Linked DNA regions of Homo sapiens: region 2 is linked to region 1. Evidence: fine-mapped expression QTL. A gene starts in region 1. The other region holds a variant in brackets. All regions are shown on one strand. Distances are between the middles of the regions.

What was found. PIP is the estimated chance that this variant, and not a neighbour inherited with it, causes the effect. A credible set is the group of variants that fine-mapping cannot tell apart.
Region 2: its variant is the best candidate, but not a certain one, in a credible set for the expression of PAQR8 in putamen (GTEx, PIP 0.64).

What each region holds. Positions count from the first base shown.
Region 1 is chr6:52,360,761-52,363,669 of GRCh38, reverse strand. It overlaps PAQR8 (progestin and adipoQ receptor family member 8), which reads right to left and starts at 1,519. Exons shown (of 2, transcript NM_133367.5): 1 at 1,421-1,519. RefSeq lists silencers at 1,267-1,756, 1,930-2,115.
Region 2 is chr6:52,496,074-52,498,982 of GRCh38, reverse strand. It overlaps EFHC1 (EF-hand domain containing 1), which reads right to left. Exons shown (of 11, transcript NM_018100.4): 11 at 1,785-2,909. It overlaps TRAM2 (translocation associated membrane protein 2), which reads left to right. Exons shown (of 11, transcript NM_012288.4): 11 at 1-1,575. Among named protein-coding and RNA genes, the nearest start is that of EFHC1, 77 kb to the right of the region's middle. RefSeq lists a silencer at 968-1,169. The variant G/A (reference allele first, on the strand shown) is at 1,746.

The DNA of each region.
Region 1 (2,909 bases):
TCACTGACAAGCAAATACTCCCAAACTGTACAATACTCTCATGTTTAACTCGACTGGAATGCAGTGCGTTTGTGGACATTGTTTGGTGTGTGTATTTGTTGTGGATTTTCCTCGTTTTTACCCAGAAACAGCTTCTCAGAGTACTGGAACAAGTAGTACACACGTGGGTCTAAAAATCACACATACAGTGTATTGTATGAGTTATCCCTAAGGCGCGCACACACACGGGTAGGTATTACCTGTACATTTGAAATCTCACTCCATAACTAATTTTTTTAGCCCAGGCTCTTCTCATTGGGTTCCTGGACAAAATCATTTCTAACCCAGCTAAGAAATATGGAATGCAACTTAGGTCAAGACAATGAGCCTGCCAAGGCTCCTGGACTTCCCACTAGTCTGCCAGTGCCTGGAGCACCCACAGCTGCACAGGAAGCTGCTGTGCCCGGCTACCTCCAGGTCCCCGCACCGGGTCGGCAAGGTGCAGCAGCCCCCAAACCCAGGCTCCGAATATTCCCCAAGCGCGCTGAGTGCGAGGTCCCCACCCGCCTCCGTCTGGGGATGCCCGGTCTTGCTCCCTAGACTAGATTCCCTCTCGAGTTATCTACGACCCTGTTCCACCGAGGGCGCTGCGTTCTCATAGCCTAGACAGACGTTCCCAGCGTTCCAGCCCCACCAGCCACCTCCGACACCCCACCGCGGCGTTCCCATCCAGCCAAGCCCCAGCATCCGCCCATTAGCCAGCTGCCGGCGGTTCCCATCACAACTCCGCTCCTCGCGCCCACCCTCTCAGAGAAGCCCCCTCCATCTTTCCCCGGCGAAAGCACATGCCTAGACCCACCCTACTCTTTCCGGGGTTCCCCTACCTCGGGCTGCCCTTCCTCGGGCTCTCCCTACCGCCCCGGGCTTCCTCTCCTCCGCACTCCCCTCCCAGGTTCCGTTCCCCTCCGCCCTGCGGAGGGCGCCCCACAAATGCGGACAGGACGCCCCTCGTTCTGCCCTGTCGGACTCCCCCACGTCTTGGTCCTGAATCTCCCGCCCTCCGGGCTCAGCCTTCCCAACATCGCGGTCCCCACACCCCCGCCAGCTCTCCAGGCTCAGGCTCCATGACTCCCCAGCATCGCAGTCCTGGCCACCCCACTACAGCCGTTCAGAGCTCCAGGGCTCCCCAGCATCCTAACCCGTCGTCCCCCCTTCCGGGCTTGGATTCGGAGACTCAACATCGGGGCCCTAAACTCCGGCCCCTGGCCTCAGGTTCCCAACGCTGCGACTCTGGACCTCCCCTCTGAGCTCGGGGTGCGAGGACTCCCCAACGCCGCGATCCTGACGTCCCCGCCTCCCGAGCTCGGGCCCCGGGGCTCCCCGACCTCGCGGTCCCAATACCCAACTCGACCCGTTCCGCGCCTCCCGCGGCGGGACTCACCGGCAGGGGCGGCGGCCGAGCCCGTGCGCGTAGCCCAGCCCGGCCCAGCCCGCGCTCCCGCCTCGGGGTCCCGGCCACGAGCTTCCCGCGGGTGGCTGTGACCGCGGCGGGCTCGGCTCGGGGGAGCGGCCGGGAGGAGGAGACCGCCGGGGGCGGGTGACGCCCAGCTCCGCCCCTTCCCGACCCGGGGGCGGGATGCGCAGACCCGCGCGCTCCGCTGCAGCCCGCGCCGCTGCCGCCGCTGCGAGGAAGTTGACTGACGCCGCTTCCTTCCACCCAGGACGCAGACCCTCGCAGTCCCTGGTAGCTGCAAAAAATCCGGAGAGTTTGAGACAGAGACGCCTTAACCGCCCTCATATTCTTTCCAAGAATTCACCTCTCAGGGGGCCATTTCCGAAGTCCCTCGGGAAGGGCGGAAAACAATAACAAACTTCATCTGCGCTGTCAAGACTGATTTAAATCCTGGCCTTTCTCTCACCACTCTCGGGTGAACGTTCAGGGTCATGCCCATGATATAAATAATGTGATGACATACCACGGAGGCCCTTGCAGACACTTCCACACCCCTAAGATACACCCGCCCAAGACTCGCGCCTCTCCCATGACTACATCACACAGACACATCTGACACTGACCTGCAGAAGATCCCACTTCTACCCTGTGTCCTCAATCCACAGCCTTCGTGGGTCCCAGCAATAGCGACCCACACATACAATCTATTGGAGGCAGGGTGCGGGGGTGGGTTCCACCTCCCGACTTGCTCCTCACCCACAATGTTCTCGGTATTTTACCATGAGAAAAAGACAGTTAAGAAGTTGGATGATCAATTAACAAATCAAGTTGGCTTTGCTTTTAAAAAGCCTTCTTCATTATCTGGAGAAAAGAGAAGGCCTGGGAAGATGGCCTGCTTACTGTAAGATTTTGTCAGACAGGCCTAATTCTGGTCTGCTTACTGTAAGATTTTCTCAGACGGCCTAATTCTGGTCTGCTTACTGTAAGATTTTCTCAGGCCTAATTCTGGTCTGCTGGTTCCCAAAACTTCTCTTATACCACCGTGTTTCAGTGACATGTTGCACAACATCTCACATTTGTACAATGTTTCCATTTTTCAAAACATTTTAGCCGAGTGTGATGGTTCACACCTGTAATCCCAGAACTTTGGGAAGCCAAAGTGGGCAGATTGCTTAAGCCCAGGAGTTCGAGACCAGCCTGGGTAACAAGGTGAGACCCTGTCTCTGCAAAAAATACAAAAATTAGATGGGCGTGGTGGCACACGCCTGTAGTCCCAGCTACTTATTCTCAGGCAAACATCACGAAGCAAAGAAAGTAATCTTAGCAGGATTATTTCAGTTCCATAAATGAAGACATTTAGACTCTGAGCAGTTGCACGGCAGGTTTGAAGCTGAGTCAGAGCCAGGAAAGAGCCCAGGGGCCTGTCTTTAGAGCCACTGATCTCCCCAGGGAATCATAGTCCAGCACTTACTTATAG
Region 2 (2,909 bases), 140 kb before region 1:
CATTGGGATTTGCAGTCTCCATGTAGCCTTTCGTGCTTGGCAACCCCTGTAGACTTTTTGTCCCAAGCAGATTGCGTGCGTGCGCCTGTGTGTGAGAATAAGTGCCTTACTTTGCTGTGTGGTTTTCAACTTGTACTCCGTGGCCAGCCCCCAGTTGCCAGGGCTCGACGGCAGCCAAGGACACCATACCTCAGTATAGTTATATATAAAAGGGACACGGATTGTGACAGTTTCACCCCATTTGTTTCTAACCCCGCTGCCCAGGATTAGGGTCTGTGGTGTGTTCTGTTTTGTTTTTGGTTTCTCCCTTGTGTCAGTTCTCTTCTGGCCCAGCTGGGTGGCTGTGGAAGTCTGTGAGGTGGCCCAACCACAAGCATACCTATTAAGAGAAGCCCAGAGCTTCCAGCCCCCACTTCGAAAACTCTCCTCTGGCCCCACATAGCAAACTCCTTCTCCGTTATTTTCCCCACCCCCAGATTTTTTTTAAAAGGCCCACTTGCCGTAACCTCTTTTGGTCTATTTTGCTTCCCATTCAGCCCAAAGTTTATATGATAAAGGTGTTTACTTTTACTTCCCAGTCTCCAAGTGCTAACACATAAACACATACATGTCTGACTGTTGCAGAACTGTTCGAGCTCCTAATTCAGTGTTACCTTGTTTTAGTCGCAGCAACCCTCTCCCCTACCCCTTGCCCGCCCACGTTTTTCTCACTCTTCCGGGTTGTGCAATAACTCTCCCAGCCAGTGGTCCTTTCCACAGCCTTTCTGTCCCTTAAAACACCTGCAACTGGGGGAGAAATGGGACCCATGGGAGGGGGAGTCGTCATCCCTTACACAAGAAATAGCCACTTTCCTTTTGTTGTCATTCTTGTGATCCTGGGTGGGTTTCTGTGGCACTCTTTTAGAACATGTAGCATCATCTTAGAGGTCTATTTTTAAAAAATGTGTTGAAGAGGAAAAAACCATTCTCACGATGGGGCTTAAGTCATTGTCCAGGAATAAGATTGGCGTGGTGCCCATGACATCACCGTCACTCTGCCTAAAAGCACTCTAGAGCTACTTGTTCACGTGGAGAGGAAGGATATTTTGCGAAGCAACAGCCGCAGGTGGAGAGCCCTGTTCACCTGATAGGGTCTAGCTGTGACAGTAAATATAATACCGCTGTTTCCTTGGGTACAGATTTGAGTGTTCATGTGATGAGACTGTAAACCTCATTTTTCGGTTCCTCTGTTTAAAAAAACATCTGAAGGATGAACTAAGGCTGCTGGTGCCCTGAGCAACTGATAATGCAAATGTGGACAAAGTGTCTGTTTTCTACTCTAGCCTGTTCATATGGACCAAATTTCAACAAGGAACTCAAGGAAAATTTGTACCTGCCGTATTTATGCTTTCATGTAAAAAAGGGTTGGGGGGAGGGGTGTCTTTTTGCTTTTGGTGAACTTTTTTTCAAAATCATTTTTCCACTGTTTCTGTCTGGTTTTAAAACAAATTACAGTTTTGTATGGATTTTTTAAATGTACATTTTGGAACAAATGATCAAATATTTTCTGAAATAACAATAAAAGGCAGAAAATTATCAGAATTGTCTCATAATTATTTCCTTGACGTGCTTTTATACAGTGATGCTTTTAACGTGGATGTTTACGTTTGCTTAAAGGAGTTTGCAATGAATTTTAGCCCTCATGTCTATTATTTTTCACTATATTAGTCATTTCTTATATATTTTGACCCGTATTTGTCCATTGT[G/A]ATATGAATTAGGGAATTAAGGATGGAGAGTCAGTTATGTCAAGTGCTGGATAGCAATAAGCATCATTTTTATTTGACTCTTTAATAGTAAAGTGGAAAAGAGGTTTTCTTAACATGGGGTTTGTGGGTAGGAAGCTCCAGAAACAAGCACATCATCCTTGATGCCTACTATACTATGATGTTATTTAGCTTGGAGGAAATGGGGTTTCGTTTGTGTAAAGGCCAACAAATATGTTGGTGCTGACTAGAAGACATCCAAGTATTAGTAATAGTGGGGATTGCTGGTGTCACTTACATGGCTGCTGTTGGCTGTAGCTGCTTGCTGTGTTTACCAGAACCATCTTTCTTTGGAAAAAGATCTCAAAAGATGAGTGCAGTTACAGGTGGCAGTTAGTCAAGGACACCCATGGGGTGTGAGAAAGAGGAAATGTTTGCTTGAGGTGAAGGTGAGTGGTTCTGATGCATGGCAAGCTTCATTGTAGAGTTGGGTCCTGCTCTGCCATGAGAAGCTAGGTGAACTCAAGCAGTTAACCCTTCCGAGTCTTTTTGTGCATCTGTGTCAAAAGGGTTTCATGTTTTGTGGGGAGTCATGGTGAGAGATTTAGAGATACTGAATGCTAAGTTCATGGTACATATAAAGCACTCATATTGGCTTTTTAAAATGAACTTATGTGCCAGCAGGATACTCAGGAGTCACTTAACCAAGTGGATTCTCTGGACAACATTTAGAGACGTCTTCTCTACCTATGTGTCCCAAATACCCTCAAAGCCTATAGATATGGATTTGATACACCTTAATTGGATGGTATTTTCAAGGCCCCCTGATGGTGCAGACAAGGTACAGGCCCAGGTTTCTGAGTAGTGGCTAACTCACAGCCCATCTTTACCCGCAAGGCAGATTTTTATTAGTCCCAAAGCCGTAAGCACTATAAGCAGTCTTAGTCAAATGCTTCAGTTAGACCTGATAGCTTCAGCTACCAGTGCTAATCTTAATAATTCTCATTCTCTCTTTGTGTGTGTGTGTGTGTGGGTGTGTGTGTGTATTAGAATCTTTCAACTCCCTGGTGGCCAGTTTGAAGTGATGATCATTTCTGCTTCCTACAATATTGCTTGCTACAGGGTAATGCTCAGCTCCCTTCCACCACCTGAACCTGACACTCCAGA